2 separate regions of the Homo sapiens genome follow, and region 1 is linked to region 2. Evidence: fine-mapped expression QTL. A gene starts in region 2. The other region holds a variant in brackets. All regions are shown on one strand. Distances are from middle to middle.

The links. PIP is the estimated chance that this variant, and not a neighbour inherited with it, causes the effect.
Region 1: its variant is the best candidate, but not a certain one, in a credible set for the expression of FGF1 in fibroblasts (GENCORD, PIP 0.89).

What each region holds. Positions count from the first base shown.
Region 1 is chr5:142,619,108-142,623,502 of GRCh38, reverse strand. All of the region lies in intron 1 of FGF1 (fibroblast growth factor 1), which reads left to right. Among named protein-coding and RNA genes, the nearest start is that of FGF1, 65 kb to the left of the region's middle. RefSeq lists a promoter at 1,182-2,206. The variant G/A (reference allele first, on the strand shown) is at 2,523.
Region 2 is chr5:142,683,729-142,688,123 of GRCh38, reverse strand. It overlaps FGF1 (fibroblast growth factor 1), which reads left to right and starts at 2,034. Exons shown (of 4, transcript NM_000800.5): 1 at 2,034-2,167. RefSeq lists enhancers at 1,566-1,591, 2,691-3,560 and promoters at 1,518-2,088, 1,225-2,088.

The DNA of each region.
Region 1 (4,395 bases), 65 kb after region 2:
GTGGTGGTATGTGCCTATAATCCCAGCTACTTGGGAGGCTGAGGCTGGAGAAATCACTTGAACCCGGGAGGTGGAGGTTGCAGTGAGCAGAGATCGCACCACTGCACTTCAGCCTGGGCGACAGAACGAGACTCTGTCTCAAAAAAAAAAAAAAAGTGTCAAAAGGGTACACAGCTGGTGATAGTCAAGCTAATATCTATCGAATGCTTACAAGTTCTCAAGTGCTGAGATTACAGTGACTCTGTTCAGTAGCTACTGTTATGCAGCCCCATTTTGCAGATGAGGAAACTGGGGCACTGTGAGAATGAGTCATTTACTAGTGAGTGTCCAACCAGGATTCAAACCCAAGTTTAGCAGTATGCTGGGTAAACCAGCTATCAGAGGGGAAAAAAAAGGAGAATTTTAAAAGCCCTGGCATTTGCCAATTTCTATGATATAAATACTCTCACCAGGGTTGATTTCAAGATATTAATGGTTTAATAATAGTAAAATTCCTGAATATTTAATAATTGGCTTTCATGAGCTTCTGGGAGCTGTCTCCTGCACACCATTGTCAAGTCCATCCCATAGTCAAGTCCACAGTTTACTGTCAACCACGGAAGATGAGATTTCAGCTCATGGAACAGAACTGGTTTGGGGGCAGCATGCTGAGATGCTAGCCCAGGCCAATCAGCCATGGCTACACTCCTACCTCAGACCCAGTACAGACCATGGAACATGGAGCAAAAGAAATAGAAAGCAAAGAACACACTGCCTCCCTTTCTTCGGCAAACTTTCCTTCACCAGGGAGTGGAAGGTGGGGCCCTGCCAGCCTAACACGCTGTGGCAGAAATAAAAAAAGCCTGGATGTTTTTTCCAGGCCCTACAAATATTTTTCTTGGTTAGATAAGTTCAGACTTGAGACTAAAGGAGCTGATCACTTCCTTTCTGAGATCCTTAGTTTCCATAGTATTTTCTTTAAAGAAATAAGGAAGTATTTATTACAAGATGAGGACAGGGTTTGAGCCTGCCTTTAACCAAAGGTAGGGTATTCTGGCCTAATTTGAACCCAATTAAAATACATTTAGACTCTTGGCTTAGCTTCTTTGTCAATACCTATAGGACATCACCTGCTAATTAGGTAGTCTGATAAGATGTTCCACAAGAGGCTCCTGAGAAAGGACTGGCCCTTCAATCAACAAGAATTCACAGGACACTAATAATGCATAGGTATTTGCTCAATGCTAGATACAGAAAGAAAAGGCATAGTTTCTGTCCCAGGGTCTCAGAGACTAATGAAGGAGTCAGTGAAGTAAACGTAGTTAAATTACATTCATTTGCCCATTCAACAGATGTTTATCAAATGCCCATCAGGTGTCAGGCATTTTGCTAGGCACTGGGATACCATTGTGAGCAAGACCAATTGGTTTGTACTATCATGGAGCTGACAGTCCAGTCATGAAAAGAGACATTAAATAATCACAAGAGTGAATGTGTAATTAAACACTGGTAGTAAGAGCCATGAAGAAATGTTAAATGGTCCTATGAGAACTGGAGGAACCTGACTCAGTTCAGGGAAGACAGGAAAGGCTTTCATGAGGAATTGAGAGTTGAACTAAAATTTGAAGAAAAATTAGGAGTTAACCAGGGGAGTAGGGTAGAGAGAAAGAGAGGAACATCACTCCAGAGGGAACAGCATGGGCAAAGGTCCTAGGGTGGGGGGAATCAGAAAATGGAAGGCAAGTTTGGAGGGAGACGTGATGGGAAATGAGGCAGAGGGGGAGTAAGGGCTGAACCTCCCAGAGTCCTGCAGGCCACAGCAAGGCTTTTGTTTTTGTCCCAGAGCAATGGGAAATCACTGAAGAGTTTAGGCAGGGGGATATAGATGGGAATTACACCCAGCGCTGCAGTGAAGTAAAGGAAATGCTGTCTGCTGTTGGGAGAGCACAGGGGAATGAACCCACCTAAACTGGTATATGTGAATTTTAAGAAAGAGTAGGGAGGTTAGGGTTGGGGGATGTGTCCAAATAAGGCTTGCTCGAGGAGGAAATATCCGAAATATCCAGCTAAATTTTTGAAGGGTGAGTGTGACTTAGTCAGACCATGGTGAAAGGGTGGAGGAAAGGAGGGAAGGAGGGAGGAAGGGAGGGAGGGAGAAAGAGAAAGAGAAAAAGAGAGAGAGAAAAAATACTGTTGGCAGCAGCACAATGTTTGGGCTAAGACCTGGGTGAGTATGAGGGTGTAGGGGGACTATAAAAAGAGGCCAATAAGAGAAAAAGTCACAGGGTTAAGAAGGGGTCAAATGATGAGAGCCTCACAGGTCATGGCAGGAGTCTGGGTTTTATCTGGAAAGACAACGGGAAATCAATGACCCAGTCAAAGATCTACAGCAGGGGAGTGATGAGTTAGAATGGTCACTAGCAGCAGAATTGACAGTGGATTGAAAGAAGGCAGTGCTGGAAAGGTGGGACCTGCTGCAGCAGCCCAGGTGAGACAGGTGCTGGGTCTGTGCTAAGGCAACAGAAGTGAGGCTGGAGAAAAGA[G/A]GATGGCTTTAGGAGACACTAAAAAGGTAAAACTGAAAGGGCATTTTCACCAACTGAACAGGTGGGAGTGATTTCTATTCTGCCCAAAGAATAGTCTGAATGAAACAAATTTTTCTATTTGGGTTGTCTTGCCTTATGACCTGGTACATGGTCAATTTTCGTAAATGCTCCATGTATCTTTGATAAGAATGATGTTCACTTCATTGTTGGGTACAAGGTTCTTTTATACACTCATCAATTAAGTTTACTAGTTGTGTATTTCAATCTTCTACATATTAATATTTGGTGTCTGTTTGCTCTATCATTTATGACAGAAATGTATTATAAAATCTCCCACCATAATTGCGGAGTTGTCACTTTCTCTTTACATATTTGTCAATTTTTGTTTTATGTATTTTGAGGCTATGTCATTAGATATATACATGTTTGGAATTTGTATATCTTTCTGTTGAATTAATCCACTTATTATGTGGCAATCCCTTTTATCTTTAGTCATTCTTTTTGCCTTAGACCTACTTTATCTGATATTAATATAGCCACACGAGTTTTCAATTTTTTTTTTTGAGACGGAGTCTTGCTCTGTCACCCAGGCTGGAGTGCAGTGGCGCGATCTCAGCTCACTGCAAGCTCCGCCTCCTGGGTTCACACCATTTTCCTCCCTCAGCCTCCCCAGCAGCTGGGACTACAGGCGCCCACCACCATGCCCAGCTAATTTTTTTGTATTTTTAGTAGAGACAGGGTTTCACTGTGTTAGCCAGGATGGTCTCGATCTCCTTACCTCGTGATCCGCCCACCTCGGCCTCCCAAAGTGGTGGGATTACAGGCGTGAGCCACCGCGCCCAGCCGAGTTTTCAATTTTTTTGTTAACATTTGTCTGGTATCTATTTTTCATTCTTTTGCTTTTAACCTCTCTATGTCATTATGTTTTAAATGTGTCTCTTGTAATCAGAGTGCAGATGGAGTTAAAAAAAAAACAGTAGCTAGTAAATTTAGCACATTTACATTTATTGTGATTATACATATATTTGGATTTATTTTGGCCACCTAATTCTGAGCAATTTTTTTACTTTATTTTCTTTTTTTCTTTTTCTAGATTATTTTGGAATAGCACAGGGTTTTGTTTTTTTTTCGTTTTTTGGTTTTTCTTGAGACGGAGTTTCGCTGTTGTTGCTCAGGCTGGAGTGCAATGCCACAATCTCAGCTCATCACAACCTCCGCCTCCCGGGTTCAAGCGATTCTCCTGCCTCAGCCTCCTGAGTAGCTGGGATTACAGGCATGCGCCACCATGCCCGGCTAATTTTGTATTTTTAGTAGAGACGGGGTTTCTCCATGTTCGTCAGGCTGGTCACGAAGATAAGCACAGTTTTATTTATTCCACCTTATCCCCCTTACGCCTACCAGTTGCCGCTTGGACTAAATACATTCTATTTCTTTTCTTTTAGTAGTTACCTTTAACATTTAACATGTATATTTGACTTAACAAAATTTAGTTAATATCTCTAAGGAAGAATTAAGATTTTGGGTGATGCCATTCATAGCCACAGGCAGCAAGGACTTAGAGCATATTTGGAACCAAAGCCAAGGCCTGTTTTGTATATGCTGGGTTTGAGGATACATCCAATTATCACCTTAGCAGGTGTCTGTCTACACATCTACCTTCAGTGGCTTTATATACTCTGCAAAATATCCTCCTTCATGGGTATTCCACATTGCTTACACAGTGACAGGGATTAAAAACAAAACTAAAGGCTGGGCGTGGTGGCTCACGCCTGTAATCCCAGCACTTTGGGAGGCTGAGGCGGGTGGATCACGAGGTCAGGAGATCGAGACCATCTTGGCTAACACGGTGAAACCCCGTCTCTACTAAAAATAC
Region 2 (4,395 bases):
CTAAAAGCTGTGTGTGTATGTGTGTGTGAGTGTGTGTGTTTAAACAGGGTTTCACAACTGGACATAATGGAGAAATAAAATAAAATAATGACTTGCATTTGCATTCCCTGCGTTCAAGGTGCTCGAACACACTTGGACACATTTGATTGTCATGATAATCCTGTGAGTTTGCAGGGAAGATATGAGTAGGAAAGTCTCATTAATTTCCACTAGGAGGGGGGGAATCTGGAGCCCTTGGGCTGAATTGCCCAACAATGGCCAACCACACAGTGCAGGCAGGTTAACACGGGGTTAACCTAAAGCAGGGAGACCTGGTTTTAGTCACAATGAGGACTTTAACTAAGGGTACCACCTGAGTGAGTCTCTGAGTCTGCATCTCTGTCCTTAGGATTTTTAGGGTATTTTCTAACTTTCAAGTCTATCATTTCACGTAGTTAAAAAGGGTTAACATGCATACTACATCTAGCATAATGATTCTTTAATACTTGGAAAACCATTGTCCAAAATATTTTCTTTAAGGATTCAGAAGGCCCTTTGGAAACTTGCAGATACTCAGGAAGATTATTATGTTTTAAAGCAAATTATCAGTATCCTTTGCAGGTGTAGAAGTGGTAGTTCATGAGGGTTCCAATTAATAGGGTCTCAAGAAATCAACATTTTCTGTATATTCAAGTCCCTTTTGGGAGCTGCTGCTTATCCGTGATTGGAGTTCTGTGATGATTGAGCCTCTAGCTCTTTAGTACAGGACACGAGCTCCTTCTCCAAGGCTCATCCCTTCAGAAGGCACATGGATGGCTTCCCCACACCCCCATGCTCTGTGGGGAGTGTGGGGAACAAACTGCAACTCCATCCTCTCTACACCTAAGCAACTACCCAGAGGAGGTAGAGACTGGAGAGCATATTTCTAGTTCTGACAGGTCGATCTGTACCTCTCTACCTGAATCATCAGGTGAGCAGGCTTGTGTACATACATGGGAGTGCATGCGTGCACACACACACACACACACACTCATGCCTTCTGGGCTCAAACGCCTGCATAAGCAGGAGCGACTCTTCAATTATTGGAAACTATTAATCATGTTTTCATTTGGTTTCTTCAAAGACAGCTCTTGATCCATATCCTTTCAGTCCACCTTATTCCCCACCTTCTAGCCAAAGAGTTATTTGTCCAGACAGCTCCCTCCCTTCCTTACCCTGTCCTGGCCAGAAGTCTAAAGAGGATGTCCATGGCCCATTGAAGAATTTCCCACCCCTGAAGTTGAGCTCACCTGAGGATTCACCTCATCCAACGGGGACAGGCTTGAACAGTGGAGAGGGAGGACAGAGCTGCCACCTCTGCAGCCCCTCGCCAGTCCCAACCTGGATGGCTTTTGCCTCGATTGACTTCGTAAAATGCCATTTGTAGGGCTTGGCTCTGGGGATGGCACAGACAGACACACACACGCACACATACACGTTGCCACACACAGACACCTACACCCCATGCAGGGATGCCAGATGACAGAACAGAAAAGGCCTCCCTTTCATCCAGCAGCCTTCTGACTCCAGAGGAGAGTCTCCGAGCCACGACCTGCTGTTTCCCTGGCAACTCAGGCCTCAAAATAAACAGGATTCTGCTCAGACGGGCCAGAAGTCCATTCGGCTCACACATTTGCCCCAAGACAAACCACGTTAAAATAACACCCAGGGTAGCTGCTGCCACCGTCTTCTGTCTCTACCTCCCTCCTGGCTGGCCAATGGCTCTGTGTTCCTGGGCCTGCTGCTGGCTGTCCAGAGTAGGGGTTGCTTAGAGCTGTGTGCATCCCTGCGGGTGGTGTGGGAGTGGGCGGTTGTCTAAAGGCAGGTCCCCTCTACTGATAAACAAGGACCGGAGATAGACCTAGAGGCTGACATTCTTGGCTCCCCCAGCCTACACCCCCCCCACCTCGATTTCCCACAGAGCCCTAGGGACGGGTAGCCAGCTCTGTGGCATGGTATCTGGAGGCAGGCCAGCAACCTGATGTGCATGCCACGGCCCGTCCCTCTCCCCACTCAGAGCTGCAGTAGCCTGGAGGTTCAGAGAGCCGGGCTACTCTGAGAAGAAGACACCAAGTGGATTCTGCTTCCCCTGGGACAGCACTGAGCGAGTGTGGAGAGAGGTACAGCCCTCGGCCTACAAGCTCTTTAGGTAAGAATCAGGGCATCTGATCTGGGAAACAGAGCAGGTTATAGCTGAGGTTGTGTGTGTGTGTGTGTGTGTGTGTGTGTGTTTTGTGTGTGTGTCCAAGTGCAAATGTAATGCTACTTGGAGAAGAAAGAAAATGTTTCAAGCAGATAGCACTGGAACCAGGACTCCTGCAAGTGAATCTCAAGAAGCTCACCTTTGGCTGGGTTTAAACCATGGTGCAGACTGCTCTGGGGGAAGGGCATGCTGATGTCACAGACATGTAAAAATAGTACTTCTAGTTTAGAGACTGCAAAAATATGAATGCACCATGCCGCCACATTATCTCCATTCCTCCAGTGCCCGCCTGACACTGGCCCTGAATCAGGGCTGGAGGGGGCAGGCATTTCTCATTTACTAAAGTGCTGGATGCAGCCCTTGAGGTTCGGCAGAAGCAGAAAGCTGCGGTGAGTCTGGCTGTGGTGAGTGTGGCTAGCATTATCGTGCTGTGTCACACTAGCTCTCTCTTGGGAAGCCTGGATATTCAGCTGCCTTGGAAAAGCTGTCCACATGGTGGGCAGCTTAGATTTTATTAACCTTTTGATATAGAAGTCAGGCTGAAGTTTAGGATTATCTGGGTGTGTCAGCTCAGGGTTTTGGTAGGGTGGTATTCCCATGGCCCCATGGTCACTCGGATTACTTCTTTCCTTCCTTTCTGATCTTGGAATATCACATCCTCGTTTCAGTACCCCTCCGATGGGCACTAGGAAAGAAGGAGTCAGAATGGACAGAGTCTCTGGCACATACACTATCCACACCCACATCACAATTACATGCCAAAGGTATGCAAGGCTGCTGCAGAGGAGCACTTCAGAAATGCAGCCCTCCAGATACTGAGATGGAAATTTCAGGCATTTAATCAAGTACGCACTTTTCAGAGACCCAAGGGAGGCCCAAGGGCTCACTCTGCCTCAGCAGAATTCAAACACTCCATTATTCTCTAGCTATGTTACATCCACCCACCACCCCACCACCCCCGCTTGCCTCCCTCCTTTCTGCACTGGTGACTGGCACTTTTCCTTTCATTCTCTACAGGGATGCGATTGTTTACGAGTTAGCTCCCCGACCCAGTGGGAGGACTTGAGCATCCCGGCTGAGGGCGAGCCAGGCTGCCCCTCCACCAGCTCTGTGTAACAGTGAGCCAGCAGCAGTGGCATCAGGGCTGAAAGGAGTGGGCCTCGCTTTGGGAAGTGATGTCTAGTGAAGGGTGGCCAGCAGTTTACTGGAGCTGTTTGTCAGTGTGGATGACTGAGGATTTTGGTGGAGACTCTGATTCACAGTCGCAAATTCCCTTTTCCTTTGTTTTCTTTGTGTTGGTCTTTGAGGGCTTCCGAGGAAAGTCCCCTCTTGAGATGTTGATCTGAAGGCAAGATCAACAATTTGCTGTTGGCAGAGGGACTCAGAGAGACTTTCTTCTGTTGCCCCTGCCTTTGTTAGTGTGAATAAATGGGTTTGCAAATGAAGTATGTAATCCAAAGCAAACTTAGTATGCAAAACTTTAAGAGAAAACACAATGAGTTTCTTTTAAATTCTCTCTCAAATCTGCTGTTTACATATGACTTGACTAGTTCTGCAAAGGATCAAGGAAGCCATATCTGGTTAAGTGGTTTGACTTTACAGGTGAGTAGCACCAGCCATGATGATAACATTCAGTGGAGATGGTGGGCGGACATCCATATGCCGTATCTACATTGAAGGGACATCTCATCTTGGGACAGTGCAGCCACTCACTTAGGTGACATGCATTCTGTGAACTACACATAAACTATTAGGATCTTGGGACTGCTGTTACAGGAAAGAGATCCAGACCCCAAGAGAGGGTTCTTGGATCTCAAGCAAGAAAGAAGTCAGGGCGAGTCCGCAGTGCAAAGCAAAAGCACTTTCTTTTTATTAAGAAAGTAAAGTGGTGAAAGCACAGCTGCTCCACTGACAGAGTAGGGTGTTCCCAAAAGTAAGAGGAGGAACACATCCATCCTAGGTACCATGCTCGTATATATAGGATTTTAAAAAGATCATGGGGAGATGTGCTCTGCTACAAGGGTTTGTGATAAAGGATAAAGGATTAATTTTCTTTTCCTTTTTTTTTTTTTTTTTTTTTTGAGACAGAGTTTCACTCTTGTTGCTCAGGCTGGAATGCAATGGCACAATCTCGGCTCACTGCAACCTCCGCCTCCCGGGTTCAAGCAATTCTC